Linked DNA regions of Homo sapiens: regions 1 and 2 are each linked to region 3. Evidence: fine-mapped expression QTL. A gene starts in region 3. Each other region holds a variant in brackets. All regions are shown on one strand. Distances are between the middles of the regions. Region 1 overlaps SLC44A3 (solute carrier family 44 member 3). Region 2 overlaps CNN3-DT (CNN3 divergent transcript). Region 3 holds the start of CNN3 (calponin 3).

What was found. PIP is the estimated chance that this variant, and not a neighbour inherited with it, causes the effect. A credible set is the group of variants that fine-mapping cannot tell apart.
Region 1: its variant is the best candidate, but not a certain one, in a credible set for the expression of CNN3 in cerebral cortex (GTEx, PIP 0.70).
Region 2: its variant is the best candidate, but not a certain one, in a credible set for the expression of CNN3 in ileum (CEDAR, PIP 0.89).

The regions. Positions count from the first base shown.
Region 1 is chr1:94,885,330-94,891,306 of GRCh38, reverse strand. SLC44A3 (solute carrier family 44 member 3) reads right to left here. Exons shown (of 15, transcript NM_001114106.3): 13 at 40-177. Among named protein-coding and RNA genes, the nearest start is that of CNN3-DT, 38 kb to the left of the region's middle. The variant T/C (reference allele first, on the strand shown) is at 3,700.
Region 2 is chr1:94,955,556-94,961,532 of GRCh38, reverse strand. All of the region lies in intron 2 of CNN3-DT (CNN3 divergent transcript), which reads right to left. Among named protein-coding and RNA genes, the nearest start is that of CNN3, 31 kb to the right of the region's middle. The variant A/TTTGA (reference allele first, on the strand shown) is at 3,302.
Region 3 is chr1:94,924,636-94,930,612 of GRCh38, reverse strand. CNN3 (calponin 3) reads left to right here and starts at 3,503. Exons shown (of 7, transcript NM_001839.5): 1 at 3,503-3,775. The coding sequence starts at 3,719. CNN3-DT (CNN3 divergent transcript) reads right to left here and starts at 4,253. Exons shown (of 3, transcript NR_168377.1): 1 at 3,873-4,253. RefSeq lists silencers at 2,986-3,865, 3,966-4,395.

The sequences.
Region 1 (5,977 bases), 39 kb after region 3:
CAGAATCCCAGGCTCCTTTATTTAGTCAAGATATCTCACCTTTCCTAGAAAAATTATGAAGTCTCCAAAGCAGTTAATAGATGTAAAGTGACTTGAGTTCTTGGACAAGATTTTGAATGCATCTTTTGCTGATGTACAGAAATCTGTCCCATTAATAGCAGTTGTAGTATATGCATTCTGAAACAGAAGAGAATTGTTTAAAAGATAATTCTTATAACAATTGTTTTTAAGGCAATATATTAATACAGAGTGTTTGCAAACTAGAGTTACAATAAACCTACTCTCTCTACCCATAACAAATACCATTTTCAAAGTCCTTTCCAGTCTGATTATATCCATATATATTTTCATATAGTTGCAGCAAATAGAAAAGATAAATAGGTACTTATGGTTAATATGAATGTCCCACTACAAACATGTGGAAATGATGGGTAAAGCATAAGGGTTTTATTTGCTTGTTTTGAGACAGTCTTACACTGTTGCCCAGGCTGGAGTGCAGTGGTGCCATCTTGGCTCACTGCAACCTCTGCCTCCTGGGCTCAAGCGATTCTTGTACCTTGGCCTCCTGAGTAGCTGGGATTACAGGCGAGAGCCACCACCCTGGCGATAAGTTATTTTTTAATGCACAATAGAGTTTGAGGGCAGGAAAGGAAGTTTAGGTACCAGAAAGCAAGCGGGATCTAATGGTTTGTGAGAGCTGAACCCAAAGGTGCAACAGGCATGCAATTAGGCCCTTGCTAGGGAAGTGAGCTCCTTCAACAAATTCAGGATTCATACTCAATTCAGCCTCAGTCAGCCATTCCAGGAAGGTGGTACAGAAATGCACTATGTGCCTAAGAGTGTTAAAATTACTAGGGTTTTGCAAAGGCAAAGCAACATCGCCACCTCCCAGGCCAGGGAATAGAGGAGTCCTACAGATAACAACCCTTGGAGAAGACGAGGAGCTCACAGGAAAATTTTATAGAGGACCCATGGAAATGAACATCACAACAAACAGAATCTACCCTGAGAACAACCTGGAAAAAAAGTATTTAGAGAGGTATGTTTAAGGTACTAAGAAAATAGTGAAAGAAACAGTGACCATAAGGAATAAACAGAACAGTATGAAAAATGAAGAGGCAGAGTAGAAAACAAATTGAATAGAAATTCTAGAAATAGGCCAGGTGCCGTGGCTCATGCCTGTAATCCCAACACTTTAGGAGGCCGAGGCGGGAGGATCACCTGAGGTCAGGAGTTCAAGACCAGCCTGAGCAACATGGAGTAATCCCTTCTCTACTAAAAATACAAAATTAGCCAGGCATGGTGGTGCATGCCTGTAATCCCAGCTACTCGGGAGGTTGAGGCAGGAGAATTGCTTGAACCCGGGAGGCGGAGTTTGCGGTGAGCCAAGATCGTGCCATTGCACTCCAGCCTGGGCAACAAGAGCGAAACTCCATCTCAAAAAAAAAAAGCTAGAAATAAAAAATATACAGTGTAACTGGTATGGTGTCATGATTATATATCTGGCTTTTTTCTTTGTATAATAAGCATTTTTATGTTACTACATGGCTTTTATAATTTTAATTTTTAACGCATATTCTGGGATATACATATGTGCATGTGTACGTGCATGTGTGTAGCTGGGACATGTTGACTGTTTCAAATGTTTTGCTGTTATAAACAACTATGCAATGAACTCTTGATTTCCTGATTTTAGATAATTTCTTAAGCATAAATTCTCAGAAACAAGATTACTATATCAAAGACTACAAATGTGTGTGTGTGTGTGTGTGTGTGTGTGTGATTATGTTCACATGAGACGATTTCTCAGGTTATTTTTTCCAAAATACCTTCCCCTTATGACTACATTTCAAGACCATTTATGTCTCTTGAAATCTTTAAAAATGCTACTTGCATTGCAGATTACAACAAGAATTTATAACTTTCCTGGGAAAATACATGAGAATACTACCTGCTTGGGTTGTTGTCATTCCTTTTGGTTTGGATAAAGGATGAAAGTTTTTTATTTCATGATATACAAATTAACCCTTTTGTACACCCCTTCAGACACATCGTAAGGAAATCAGTGTGGAGTCTACTGCAGTAATCAGCCTCCCACAGTGCGGGTCCTAATAGAGTAAGTAGAAGAGATGAAGACCACTAACAAGCATAGGGTTAAGGGAGCAGAATTAACTGACCCAATTTACCAAACTCCCTCTTCAAGGCCAGCAAGAGAAGAATGTTTGGTTCTTAAAGACAAAAGGCTGGGCCAGGCACGGTGGCTCATGCCTGTAATCCCTGCACTTTGGGAGGCCAGGGGTTGGGGCAGATCAAGAGGTCAGAAGTTGAAGACCAGCCTGACCAACATGGTGAAACCCTGTCTTTACTAAAAATACAAAATATACATATATATGTGTATATATATATATATATAGCCAGTCGTGGTGGCACATGCCTATGATCCTAGCTACTGGGAAGGCTGAGGCAGGAGAAACGCTTGAACCCGGGAAGCAGAGGTTGAAGTGAGCCGAGATCGCACCACTGCACTCCAACCTGGGTGACAGAGCGAGACTCCGCCTCAAAAAAAAAAGACAAAAGGCTGGAAACCATATCCCTGATAGGGCACCATGCTTGCCTTAGAGATTTTCAGTGAGACGTCAGATGAATTTCCTGCAAAAAAAAAAAAGAAAGTTCCACAAGGAAATTTTGGTTTTGGACTTACATAGAATGTGCGTGAAATTTGCTTTGAAAATCTCAAACCAGCTGTTGCTGGAAAGCTGCTCCAGTTTGGGGGCCTGAGTCTTGTGCAGGGATGTGGAAACTCATTTACTCATATTATTTAACTAGGCATCTTCAATCATCTTGGGTTTTCAAAGCCCTGATGACCAATCTATTCATTCATCCTCAAAGCACATCTGTAGGATGGGTGGGTGAAGAATGGCATAATTGTTCTTTTATAGACTGGAAACCAAGATCAAGGGCATTTCCCCCAGGTCCCCTGGTGAATCCATGAGACAGAGACCGTTTTATTTTAATTTTTTAAATTCTAACCTTCTGGACATTACACTATCAATTTTCATTAGGAAAAATTGCTATTTAAAAGCATGGTGGTTACGGTAAGCACAGGCTCTGTAGCCAGACTGTCTCTGTGCTCAAATCCCAATTCTACCACTGACTAGCTGTTGGTCTTGGGCAAATGATCTAACCTCTCTAAGACCTCAATTTCCTCATCTATAAAATGACTTACAGCACCTACCGCAAAGGGATGTTGGGAGGATTAAAGAACCTACTCCCTGTAAAGCACAGAGAAAATGTGTAATAAAGAGTGGTTATTATCATCCAGACATCACCAAAGATGATCTCATTTACAACTGGGAACACAGAGGCAACTCTTTAAGCACCTGAGGAGGTGTGGCAGGGGCCTGTAGTTGCTTTACCTGTAGGCTTTAATCCCTCACACCCACAGGGATCCAGGAAAGGGCTTTTTAGACCACCTGCCAGCCCCCAGCATCGTCTTACAGCAGCTCCACCATTGCCGCTCAGCCTCTGTCTCTGCCTCCTCTCTTCATTCAGGCTGCCTCCAGCCCACCACCCCATCACTTCCCCACTCTAAGCTTCCTAAAGTGCTTCTTGCTTCCCATGGGGAAGCACTGTTTTTGTGGGGACTTCTTTTTCTGCAGATCACTGCCTCGTATTTAATTTAGCACCATCTCTCATAAG[T/C]AGTAAAAACAGATTTCGCTCTTTGGCTAAAATGATTAAAATTTAAAAAGGTATTATACTTTCTCATGCATGTGTTGACTCCAAAGAGTTTTGGGGCCCATAAGCATTTATCTTTTCTTATGTATCAGGCCCACTGAAAGAAGGCATTAAAAGCACTCTGATAGAGAAATTATATATGCCTTCCTGCAGGTACCATACCACTAGCATTTTACCAGATTCAACCCTGAGTGCAACAGAGAGATCTAGAATTAACATCTGAATGAATAGGGGGAGGAGGGAGGAATCACTCAAGACACAGGATACGGATTAAACATTTCTGCAGCTTCAGCATTAGCTAATTTATACTTATTCTGAGTAGAAGCTGCTTGTCAGGCAGCTGGAAGATGGAGTGCACTAACATTTTCATCGTAAGTCCTTGTTCTGAGCATTTGTATTTGCCTGGGATGACAGAACTCAGGATTAACGTGCCAAGGTAATCTGCAGACTCTAACAAAATGTGGAAATGATTGGCCATAATAAGGACTAGGAAACACGTTTTATTGGTTGTGGAAGTTAAGAGATCCTAAAGGCTAACCTTTAAACAAGCAAGCAGGAGGTAGTGGCATTCGGCTTTTGATTTATTCCCAAAATTCAGTGTGCATACTTCTTTAGCATCACAAAACAGGTGGGTGGATATTTCTGTCTTGAAATTGAAGCTATAAACACACAAGACAGATACGAGGAAGGATTCCCAAGTTGGCATTGGTAGTATCTCAATATTATGTCCCAATTCTCACTCCCTTGCTTGGGATCCAAGACTCCCTCCAGGTACAGGTGGATTAGTTTTCAGACTTTAATGGACTGGTCACCTGGGACTGTCCCGAGTGGCTGAGAAGCACTGGGGGAAGAACACAATGAGGACGCCCTGTGTGGCTGTGAGGGCTTCAAAACAATGAAATACATAGCACAAGTGCACATGTGAGGGCCACAAAGAGCAGAACCACAAGCTGGAGGGAGAGGGGAAGAGAGGGCCCAGCAGGAGGGATCAGGGAAGGCTTCATGGAAGTGGCATACGAGCTGGCCCCAGTGTTGCCTGTCTCCAGCAGGGTAGGAGGCAGCAGCAGGAGCCAGCAACATGAGCCACAGACATGAGCATACCAGCAGGCTACTGGGGGGCCCCAGCAGAGGAGAAATGGGAAACAGGTCTGGAAGAGTCGGGGGTCAGCCCTCGGTGGGTGGGGCTGATGCAGAGTGTGGAGCAAGAGCAGTGAAAGGAAGTTTCAGGAGGACTCACGATTTTCAGCCTGTGCCTCTGGAAGCTCTCCCAGGCTGCCCTGGGGAAGTTCAGGTCAGATCTCCCTCATCACCATCTTCTGCTGAGCCACGAAGCTCTGCACCTTCCAAGGCTCATTCCTATTCAAGCCTAGGAGACTCCCCAAGCACCTCCACAATGCCTACGGGGCTCTGCTGGAGTTGGGTGGAAATGCTGTGGTGGCCATGCAGCCATTGAGCACACCGACCCGCCAGCAGTCATAAGCCAGGGGCTAGGCCCAAAGACCGTGAGTTCTTCTTGGGAGAAAATAGGAGTATTAGGAATAGTAACTCCTCCAGGCACTCTGGCTCCCCTCCACCCCCACCTCGGTGGATGCCTTAGTGATATATCCCAAATGCCTTGGCACAGACCTAATGATAGCTACAACTTTCTAATTTCCATCTGTGGCCTTTTTCTTTTCCAGTCAGTAGGCAGGTGTGCAACTTCTGTGTGTAAATAAATAATAACGCTAATAATAAATAATAATGGCATTAATCTTGCATGTACTATGTGCCAGGCTCTATGCTACCTCTCCCCGAACACATTCACTCATTTAGTCCTCTTAACTCCAACCCGATGAGGTAGTTAAGGAAACTAAAGCACAGAGAGGTAAAGTAGTGTGCCCCCGGTTCCACGCGTGTCATAGATGTTGCGTCCATCTTCCATGAAGTGGACCTCTAACTCGTTCAGGCCCATCTGCTGGAAAACTTTACTTTGAGCTGTACTTTGTGCTTTTTCTCCTGGAAAGTTCAAAATAACAAAGTGGTGTTCTCATGAGATGCACCATTGAAAACAGCTGAGGATGTGGCAGGATGGCTTAGTGGAAAGAGGCTGGATTCCAGTCATGTTGCCTCCAAAGACTTGCGGAACGGCTTCCACCAAATCACGTCACTTCTCAAGGGCCCTCACTTTGCTGCTTGGAAAAGACTTCCACCAACTCCAATGTTCCATGATGCTTTATGTTTGTGCTTCGTGGCCAGTCACCCT
Region 2 (5,977 bases), 31 kb before region 3:
AAATGTATCATGGAGGCTAAAACCTAATTGGTTTAAAAAAAAAAAAATCAAGCTTTTTATGCTTCATCCCAGATAAGTGATTTAAATGCTTAGACTCACATCGTTTCATGCTTGGAGTTCTGAGAGCACAAGGGGCCCCCTTTACTTCCTTGTTTATGTGACAACAGGGGAAATCTCATCATCCTCCCCTCGCCAGGCTAACTTTTTGAGGTTCAGCTTGAAAAAAAAAAGAGAAAAGTAGCAGTTATATTTGGGAGCAAGGACTGGTGAGCTTGGTTACTGGGATTGAACCCTAGCCTAGAGGAATTACTGAAGGTTGAACCCAACAAAAGTACCTAAACCTCAGTCTAAAGTTTTCAATCCAGGCCAGGCGTGGTGGCTCACTCCTGTGAACCAGCACTTTGTGAAGCCAAGGAAGGCAGATGGCTTGAGCCCAGGAGTTTGAGACCATATGGCCAAGATGGTGAAATCCTGTCTCCCCTAAAAAAAAAAAAAAAAAAAAAAAAAAAAAAAAAAAAAAGAAAAATTAGCCAGGCGTGGTGGCACAGGCCTGTGATCCCAGTTACTCTGGAGGCTGAGGCAGGAGAATTGCTTGAGCCCGGGAGGCGGAGGTTGCAGTGAGCCAAGACGGCGCCACTGCACTTCAGCCTGGGTGACAGAGTGAGACTCTGTCTGAAATAAATAAACAAACAAACAAACAAACATTTCAATGTGATAAATAAATCAAGAGCTGCACTATATAGTGAGAGTAGGAAGTCTCTTCCTGACCCCATCTCTCCTCTTTAAGGTATGAGAGAGGCCTGAGGGGCTTGCAGGCCACAGAGCTGAAGGCTAGGATATCACTCCAACACGGTCAAACAGGAAGAATCCAACTCCCACTAGCTTCAAGAACAAGTGATGGGGAAAAAAGGGAGAAGCAGGAAGCCGGCAACAGACAACTGTATTTTTTCTAGTTACACATGCAGCAACCAAGCTATGTCCACATGGTGGGCTTCCCCGTGTCCGGGTGCATTCACTCTGGCACCTTGCTAAGATTCTTTGCAAGTCAACAAGTCAACAGGCTTCCTCCTCATGCCATGTCTGCCCTGTCCTCCTTCTAGAATCAGGGAGGGACTCTCAGGAAGTAGACCAGACCCACAGGCCCCTGGGCTGCCGGACACTCCCACTCTCCCCCACAAATGAGAAGATCTCCCTATCCCCTCTTGTCCCTGTCCCAGATCCCCTCAGTAGTGATTATGTAATTCCATTACAATTCAGAGGAAAAAGGGATTTTTAAAAAGAGATCAGAGAGGCAGATTGGCCTTCAAGGTAGAGGATCTATAAAACCAGCCCATTCTACCGGCCATAGACAGTGTTCAGATATCCTAGACAAGGAAAGTCCAAGAGGAACACAGAGGGTTAAAGTTCCTCCTGGACTTGGGCAGGTGCAGTGGCTCACACCTGTAATCCCAGCACTGAGGTGGGAGGATTGCTTGAGCCCAGGAGTTTGAGACCAGCCTGAACAACATAGAGAGACACCATGGATACAAATAATTTAAAAAATTAGCTGGATGTGGTGGTGTGTGCCTGTGGTCCCAGCTACTCAGGAGGCAGAAGCAGGAGGATCACCTAGCCCAGGAGGTCCAGGCTGCAGTGAGTGGTGACTGCACCACTGCACTCCAACTTGGGCAACACAGTGACTCAAAAAATTAAAAAAATAAATAAAAGCAGAATAGCATTATCCTTTAAGCATCACACTCTCACACACACAAAGTTAGTGTACGTGGATATTATATCTTGAGTTTATTGAGATGTATGAGAGCACAACTTGTGCTTTTTCGAGTTCTTTACAATTCTTGATGTAATGCTATATAGCACTATATAGTAGATGCTCAACTGATATTTGTGAATAAATGCCTGTGAAATAGAGTCCTGGCCGGGCATGGTAGCTCAAGCCTGTAATCCCAACACTTTGGGGACTGAGGAGGCTGGATCACCTGAGGTCAGGAGTTCGAGACCAGCCTGACCAACATGGTGAAACCCTGTCTGTACTAAAAATACAAAAATTAGCCGGGCGTGGTAGCAGGTGCCTGTAATCCCAGCTACTCAGGAGGCTGAGGCAGGAGAATCACTTGAACCTGGGAGGCGGAGGTTGCAGTGAGCTGAAATTGTGCCATTGCACTCTAGCCTGGGTGACAGAGCAAGACTCCATCTCAAAAAAGAAAAGAAAAGAAAAGAAATAAAGAGTTCTAGAGTGGTAAGGGTAGGCTTCATAAAGAGGGTAGTAAGTTACCTAGATTATTACAGGGCATTGATCAGAATGCTGGTTGTAGTAAACTTTTTAGTTTTATTGTTAGAGCCAAGAAATAATACTAATTCCCCTCCACTTCTTATAAAACATGGCAAGGGGCAGGGGAGATGCTTAGCTTTTGAGTGCCCATTTTTGCTGCCAAAGGTAAGGAAGCTAATTTTACTAGTTGTTCCCTAAGGTACTGGTTTATATCTATCCTCTTTTCAGTCCTGTTGTTCTACCCTGCTTATAAACTTCATCATAAGAATCAAGACATGAGAGGCACAACAGTGAACACAACAGAAGTCAGGCGACCTCACTCTAAAGGGCACTCAACTACAAGAATAACCCATCATTTATTTCTGTTGAAAATGGAAACGTGGGGCAGGCTCCTTGGTGGTAATCTTCGCTGTGCCTGATTCTGATTCTAGGCAGAGACAGAAATTGTTTAATAAAACCCAGGTGACCATATCCTTTCCTATGCAGACATAATGGATTGCAATGTCATGATTATGCTCTGTTCTCCAGGGCTTTTGCAAACAAGTCATTATATCGTGGTGGAAAGTTTGAGGTATTCACTATACCTTGAAAATAATGTGCCTTTCTTTACCAGGGTAGGAACAGCCTCTAAGTGAAGACAGAGGAGTGAGAAATATGACATTTCTGCATGAGTTGGCTACTAGTCGCAACACATCTTGGTGCAAATAAAGGAAGTGTTAGCTGCTTGGGGTGGTTAATTGGCTGGGCCACGGTGCCCAGATAGTGGTGAAACATTATTCTGGATGTTTTTGTGATGGTGCTTTTGAATTAGATTAGAATTTAAATCTGTCAACTTTGAGTAAAGTAGATTGCCTGCCATGGTGTGGGTGGGTCTCATCTAATCAGTGGAAGGGGTGAATAGAACAAAGGTCTCACCTCCCCTAGCAAGAGGAAATTCTACTAGCACATGGTCTTTGGACTTGAACTGTATATCAGCCCTCCCTGGGTCTTCAGCCTGCTGGCCTACCTTGCAAATTTTTGTTTGTTTGTTTG[A/TTTGA]TTGTTGAGACAGAATCTCACTCTGTCATCCAGGCTGAAGTCCAGTGGCATGATCACAGCTGCCTTGACCTCCTGGGATCAAGTGATCCTCCTGCCGCAGCCTCTCAAGTAGCTGGGACTACAGGCACATGCCACTATGCCTGGCTAATTACCTTGCAGATTTTGAACTTGCCAGCCTTCATAATTGTATGAGCCAATCCCTTACAATAAATCTCAACGAATCTCTTTCTATACGTATACATAACCAATTGGTCCTATCTGTCTGGAGAACCCTGACTAATACACTGCTGTAACAAATAATCCTCCCACATTTCAGTGGCTGAACACAATGAATTTATGTCTCTCTCAAAGAGCAGCCCAAAGCCAGAGTTCCCTGTTGGGGGGAGTTTTTCCACCATGCAGTAATTCAGACACCCAAACTTCTTTCACCCATGATCCATTATCCTCCAGGCCCTCTGCATCCTCTATGTCCAGCTGGCAGAAAGGAAAGTGAGAATAGAGAAGACAAATCTGCGTTTTAACCATGGTGGCCCAGATGTGGCCTCCACTATTCCCACTCACTTTCCTTTGCTGAGAATGAATCACATGACTCCATGGAGAGGAATGGTGGGGCTGGGGAAGATGGCCCTTGACTGCAGAGCCACTTCCCAACAACAACTTTCTGCTACGGAAAAGGGAGCAAGCATTTGGTAGCCACCAGTCTTCTTGGTGAACACTTGCTGTCTTACGTGTGTTTTTAAGAATTATTCCACTGCAACTCTAATCTCTTTGGTGTTTTCTCTGACAAGAGTCCCCATCCAATTTGTTTCCTTCTAATACGGCACAGAGCTTATTCTGTGCATTTCCTGAGTGGCCTCACATCATTAGACCTTTCACAGATCTAAAATCTAGCAAGAAAAATAAGGTTAACAAAAATAAAAAGGTTAAATAATAATAGAAGGCCAGCACAGTGGCTCATGTCTCTACTCACAGCAATTTAGGAGGCCAAGGTGGGAGGATTGCTTGAGCTCAGGGGTTCAAGACAAGACTGGGCAACAAAGCGAGACCCTGTCTCTACAAAACATTAGCCAGGTGTGGTGGAGCACATCTGGAACCCAAGCTACTCAGGTGGCTGAGAAAAGAGGATGGCCTGAGCCAGGAGGTTGAGGCTACAGTGAGCCAAGGGTTGCGCCACTGCACTCCAGCCTGAGCAACAGAGAGAGACTCTGTCTCAAAAAAACAAAACAAAACAGTAGAAGGCAGTATGTTATTACATGTGCAGAGAACAGGACAGATGGTAAGTATAATGTGTGTTCAGAAGAGGGAAAGTGGCCGGGTGCTGTGGCTCACTCCTATAATCCCAGCACTTTGGGAGGCCAAGGTGGGCAGATCACTTGAGGTCAGGAGTTCGAGACCAGCCTGGCCAACATGTTGAAACCCTGTCTCTACTAAAAATACAAAAATTAGCCAAGCACGGTTGTGCATGCCTGTAGTCCCAGCTACTCAGGAGGCTGAGGCACAAGAATCACTTGAACCCAGGAGGCAGAGGTTGCAGTGAGCTGAGATCGTGCCACTGCACTCCAGCCTGGGCAGCAAAGCAAGACTGCTTCTCAAAAAAATAAAAAAACGAGAAAGAGAGGTTCTGTAATCAGATGAAGTAAACGTGTAGTTCACTAGAATCTTTTTTTGTTGTTGTTAGGTTTTCCTTTTTTCCAAAAAAGATTTTAAGTTCCTCATTAACCAAATATTTGAGTATCTATTTGTTGGCTGGCTCTTACTAATATCTTACTCACATCTCCCTATATCACCTATGCTGGTACAGAGCATATAGTAAACACTGGCCTCTCTCTAATTCTACTTCAGAAATATCTCATGTCCATTTCTCCATATGCACTCCCCATCCCTAGCCTATGAACAATGCCCTCTTCCTTCTTGCCTAGCCTACTGAAATGTACTCCCTGCTGGGCTTCCTATTTCTAATCTCTGACCTTTTTAACTCATATCCACAAATCACCAGAGTTATCATCCTAAAACACAGGTCAGATTGGGACAGACCTTGACAGAGAACAAATTCCACAGGCCTTCATATGTTAGTGTGCTAGTTTGTTTTATGCTCATAAATTCCTCCCATCCCAGTTTGTATGCTCCTTTGCAGTGTGACCTTGCTGCTTCTCCCTTGGAGGAGTGGAGTTCGTTTTTCCACCCTCTTGGATCTGGGCTGGACTTGTGACTTGTTTTGACAAATACAATGCAGCAGACATGACCTAAGCGTCCTGAAGCTTAGGCCTAACAGGCCTGGCAGCTTCTGCCTTTGTTCATTTGGAAAGCTGCCCTGAGACTCCAATGCAAGGAAGGCAGTCTGGCCTAGTGGAAGATGAGAGGCCACATGGAGAAGAACTGAGGCTCTCTAGCCAGCAACCATTCCCCAACGTCAACTGTCAGACGTGTGAGGGAGGCCCTCTTAAGCCTTCCAGCCCAGCTGTCACTAACTTACGCAGACACATGAAGGAGCCCAGGGGAAACCAACAGAGGAATACCCAGGCAACCCATGGCATCATGAGAAATAATAAATCGTTCTAAGCCACTAAGTTTTAGGGTAGTTTTTTATTTGTATTTGTATTTATTTATTTATTTATTTGAGACAGGGTCTCACTCTGTTGCCCAGACTAGCGTGCAGTGGCATGATCTTGGCTCACT
Region 3 (5,977 bases):
TCTAGAAACAACCAAAATGTTCATCAATAAGGGAATGGGTAAAATCACTGGTGTATCCCTACAGTTGAATACTACTCAGTAATAAAAGGAATGAACTAATGATACATGCTACAACGTCAGTGAATCTCGTAATAATTTTGCTGAGTGAAAGAAGCCAGATAAAACAGAATATACAATGTGTGATTCCAATTATATAAAATTCTAGGAAATACAAATTAATGTATAGTTACATAAAGCATATCAGGGGTTGCCTGGTGGGGTGGAGAGGTAAGGAAGACTGGGAGGGAGGGGCTACATGAGGAAACTTTTGGGTATGATGAATATGTCCTTTGTCTGTTGTGGTGATGGGTTTTTAAATAGGTGTATCTATGTGTATATGTGTGTATCAAACTGAACACTTTAAATATACTTTGTTATATCAATATACTTCAATAAAGCTGTTAAAATTGTCCCAAATTTTAAGTTTTTCTCATTTGATTCTATAGTGCCACAGTAGGTAGTCAGACACAAGCAGAGCAGGAGAGGGCTCCCCGCTCCCACCAGGAATGTCACGCAACCATCAGGTGGTCAGGCAGTTGTTAAACTGTCTCTCTAAAATAATAACTGGTCACAGCCGGCACCAGGGAAAGGCAGTCTCCCAATGGCTAGAAAATACCTACAACTGGTGATCAGCAGCTTCTGGATAGGATCTTAGGAGTTGGCTGAGTGGGCTCACAGGTGTGAACTAAGAGGCAAAATGGTGGCATTTAACTGGTACTCATATATGACCTTCTTCTAGGAACACTTGACTAGTAAGCGAAGAATGCCTCAAGTGAGCATGCGTACAACCTCAGTTAACACACTGAGCATGTGGTCCCTCCCAAGTGCTGGCAGGCCACTGCACATGCAGACAGCCCACCTCAAGGGAAGAATCAGGGGAAAAGGGACACAACCCCCTGGAAGCATGCCAATGTATAAAACCCCAAGTCAAAGGTCAAGCAGCGCACTTGAATCTCTCAAGTTGCCCGCCTGGCCCTCTTCCAAGTGTACATTACTTCGTTTCATTCTTGCTCTAACTTTCACTCCTGCTCTAAAACGTGCCTTGGCCTCTCCCTCTGCCTTATGCCTCTCGGTAGAATTCTTTCTTTGGAGGAGGCAAGAATTGAGGTTGCTGCAGACCCATACAGATTTGCTGCTGCTAACACACTTTGGTGCATGAGACTCAGATACATTCCCTAGTGCTAACAACAGCATTACGTATTCTTACACAATGAGTTAAATTAGAAACGAAGGAAGTCTCTGGAGTACTGATGGAATCCAAGAGGACCAACAATATTTAAATAGTAAGTTCCAGTGGCAATGTCAGAAAGAACTTCAAGTACCTTAGGGAGGATAACAGTTGATCAAACAAACAAATGTAGAAAATTTCATGTTTACTTTAAAGTCACGTAAGTGTACAATGGCATTAAGTACATTTACAATGTTGTGTGACCACTGTCACTACCCATCTTCAAAACTTTTTCATCATCCAAAACTGAAATCCTGCACTCCTTAAAAAATAACTCCCCCTAAACAATAAAATTCATGGTTTTCAAGACAAAATACAATTCTTGAACATTTTACAATAAGCTAAAGTAGATTAAAATGACTTTGAGCATACAACAGGAGCAGTCAGGCTTAGATTGCTGCAAAAAGGCTTTGCAGGCTGGACACCATGATTTGTACCTCAAATCTGGCTGCTATTTCCCACACTCCTAGGTCCCAAAGAAATGTGGGTGAGGTCCTGCGGTTGACACACCGTCACTGTCATACTACTGGAAAAACAGCCCAAACTGTTAGCCTCAATGATATTGGGTCAATTGTGTCATCTTCGTGTGGGAAGAATGCCCTAATTATCATTACTCCCTTTGGACAAAATTAGCAAGTCATTTATAAATCATTTCACTTTCCTCCCTATTTGCCTCCTCCCGCTTCCTTCAGGTTCCATCCCTCAAAGTCATTGGGAAAAGCCTTGCAAACTGGATAGCAGTTTTGTGCATTTCCGGTTCAAGCTGCCTTACTCACTTTTTTTTTTTAATTTAAAAAAACTTTGGATTTTTTGTAGAGACAGGATCTTGCTATGTTGCCCAGGATGTTCCTGAACTCCAGGCCTCAAGCAATCCTCCCACCTCGGTCTCCCAAAGTGCTAGGATTACAGGCATGAGCCACCACACCTGGTTCACCTTACTCACTTCTATTCCAGGACGGTTCAACTATGATGTTTTGGCTCCTCTTCTCAAGCAGCTTTCCACACCTGGTTCCATGATCTCTTCTGGCACAGTAGCTGGTATTTGGCAAACATAGGTTTCATCCTGGGATCTCAGGGATTGAAATCTGTCCTAGGTGTGCACCAGAAAGTGGTGGCAAGAGATGAAGCTTCGGAGGAGGCTGACCTCGGCCAGGATTCTTAAGTCTCAAAGTTTCAGCTTTCTCACCCCTCAACGGACATGAAATCTACCTATTTGTAACTCCAGGGAAGTAAATGAGATAATGTTTGGAAGATATCTAGTCTACCAGCTGCTCAGGCGGGGGGCGAAGGTTCTGTTCCCTGTCCCTTCTCTATCAAATGGCTTTAAAATCAGAAGAAAGTATTACGGGTAGGAAATGGGACTGCGAAAAAAATGGAGGCTGATTCTGGCCTAAAGGATACTTATCTCTATACAAAGGGCTTCTGATTCAAAGAGGCCCCGGGATTCAAAAACACAAGCAGAGCTACACCACGTGGGGTTTGGGACGAGCTGAATTCCGGATAAAGATGCCTGTAAAGAGGAGTTGATGCGAATCCAGAAAAGCACTTGAAATGCCCAGGCTTTGCATGGCACATTCCCCAGGATTTTTTCGCACCGCATTTAGAGGTTTAGACGGAGTGAGCTCGAATCAGGCCAAAAGCCTTAGGTTACTCCTGGGCGGCAGCGGGGCAGAGGTCAGATCAACAGGTGTGGAAGGCTGCGAGGTGAGGGAAGAAGCAGGTGTCGGTGGAGGCCCCAGTTCCTCCGGCCCAGAGGCTCCAACGCTGCTATTGGTGTTCCAGCAGCGGGCGGAGGGGTCCTGCCCGGCATCTGGGCGCGCTGGGCCCAGAGCCCGGGAGGAGGCAGACGGAGGCGGCGGGTCAGCGGCGGGCCAGCCCCGGTGGGCTTCCGCTCCCCTCCGCCGGCCCGGTCCGGCCCGCCGCGGAGGATGCCTGGAGGTTGACGTGAATGGCCTGTGGCTGGGAAGCCCCCAGGCGCCCTGCCTAGCCCGGGGGCGGGGCCGCCTAGCCGCCGGCCCCGGTGGCGTGAGGGCTGGGGCGGGGGCCGGGGACCTCGCGGGGAGGGAGCGGGAGGGAAAGCGGCCCCCGCGGCCCTTCAATTGGCCGCACCGCCCCTCGGCGCAGAGGCGGGAGGAGGCGGCCCTCCATTGGTCGGGCCCGGCGGCCAATCCTCGAAGGCCCAGGCGGAGGCGGGGGCGGCCTGTGGGGAACCGAGGTGCGGGCGGCGAGCGAGGCAGCCGGGTGCTTCGCAGCGGAGCTCGAGGCTCTGTAGCACCCAGTTGGACCCAGTCGCCCAGGCACCGCCCGCGCCCCGCGGCCGTCTCCTGCGCCTCCCAGAGGAGGGAGTTCGAGCATCCCCCGCGGCGGCCACTCCTCGGGGCCAGGAGCGGGGAAGCGAAGTGCGAGAGACCCCGGACCCCAGCGCTGTCTCTTCCCGCCGCCCGAACCACCATGACCCACTTCAACAAGGGCCCTTCCTATGGGCTCTCGGCCGAAGTCAAGAACAAGGTACGCCTGGCTCGGGCGGGCGCGGGGGCCCCCGGGGCACCCTTGGGCTGGCCTGGCGCTGGGCCGTGCTTCGTTTGCTCTTCGCGCTGTGGCTCACCGTTTTCCTGGAGAGGGGCCGTCGAGGCGGCGCGAGCGTCTCTGCCTGTCCCGGTCGCGTCCAGTCCCCGGGCTTGCGGGGCCGGCTCCCGGGCACCCGCCTGGCTTTGTTCCCGCGCCGTGGGACAGGACTAGTGGCTGGCGGTGGGTTCCCGGGCGCCTGGAGTCCCGCGGCGCCAGCCTTTCCGGCTGCGGGGGTCTCGGGGGCCGTTTGGTGACTGCAGAACGCGCCCTCCGGGAAGGGGGCGCTCCTGCGTGGCCACTCGCCCTTAGGCGGAGCCCGTCTGCGCGGCCAGGGACCCGGCGAGCCGCTGCCGCAGCCCCCGCCATCTGCCCGGGCCCCGGGTGCTGGCGGACTCCGCGCCTCCCCACGGGGAGAGAGACCGCCTAATGTCCCGCCGACCCCAGGGGCCCCGAGGAACGGAAGCCGGTCCGGGACCCATCACAGTCTCCGATCTCGGTGCCTGGGAGGCATTTGGAGGCAGATTGCTGCTGCTGCTTCTGCTGTTGCTTTTGCGGGAAATGGAGACAAAGCCTGAGCGCGCCACTGTGCGAGTGATATCTGCTTAGGCTTGAGACTTTTTATGAAACACTGAGAAGTTTGAAGTACATTAGACTTTCACGACATAAAGGATTATTTTTGTGGGTTGCTTTTGTTTGGGGCTTGTTTGCTGAGGCGGCTTATAGTTTGGAGCGATTGGGATTTGGTGACGCTCAGCTTTGCCACTGAGCCCAAGAATGCGTTAGGTTTATCTTTAGGACTTTTGGCCTGGGAAAGAGATGAGAGGCGTCCCCCTCCCCAAATCCTCTCCTTCCTTCCTCCCTCCCTGCATTCCAAGCCCATGACATCAGGGGTTTCTGGGGGGAGAGACCAGCCAATCGGCGCGGAACTGTGCACAGAACGCTCATTGTCTCCTTTCTGCTGTTCTGGCCAAAGCGCCACAAAGGAGGGCTGCCTGTGGTTTAATTCCCATTAACCTCCCGGGAGCCCAAGCATGTCAGGATTGCCACCGCACCGTCCGACCGCTGGTGGAAGGCACTGGCATTGTCAGAGCTGGAACATCCCGGGGCTGCGGGGGTAGGCGGTGTGAAGCGAATTATGTAAAGAGGTAATGAAGCGCACCGTTGTCAAACCCCAAGGGAGAGTTGTGGCTCTTGTCTCCCGCTGTTAGTCTGCACATCATACTGTCTTTGAAGCAAGGAGTTGATTTTAGTCTATGTATCTAAAGTTGAAATGTTTAGGTCCTTTACCTTTTCAAACGTGTTGCCCGTATTAGACAACAGTTTGCTAACAATTTTTTTAGAGAGCAGAAAGGTGAATGGTTTGTGTATGATTGAGTGCAAACCTCACCAACTGAAAAGTTTGTAACAAGTTACTGTTTCCTTCCTTCCAGGATTTACAAACCGAACTTTAGGAAACTTCAGAGGAATGGGCATGTCCAAAATGTTGGATGTGATGTGATACTTTGGCCTGGTTGTGCACATTCATTGTAATTCCCCCCAGTGATTCTTGGCTGGCAGCAGTTGAGTCTCTACTACCTTTTGCATTGTAAATGAGGTACTGATAACGTTGGCAGCCCTTCAAGTGACTTACTTTTCTTGGATGTTAATAATATCCATGCTAATTTCTTTTTTGCTGACTAATGTAGCAGCTTTTGCCCTTTTCCTGCTTAATACTGAGCAGATCCAAGGAAATGCATACACAGGCTAGATCACTGTAATTATTGTAAATATTTAAAAACGGTAAAACCTCAGTTTTTAGAACCTTTGGAAAGTTAGTTATGAAAGCTGTGGATTTATCCCTTTAAGCACCAAACCCATTTTTTAATAACCCGTTTCATTTTTGTAGTCCTTTCAGACAGTATTCTTTCATAGGAAGTCTTTTGATCTTAACAGCAGAGCAGTCCTGTAAGGTGAGGAGGATTGCTGGGATTATCCAACATCATTTACAGATCAGTACACTGAAGCTCAGAAAGATTTGCTCAAGGTCACAGAAGTTGGACTATTCTAAGAATTTTAACTCTAAAAGCGATGTCTTAGTTGAGTGAAGTACTTAGGGATGTTCTACACAAACTCTGCTGTCTGTCGCCTTCCCCCCATTTTTTT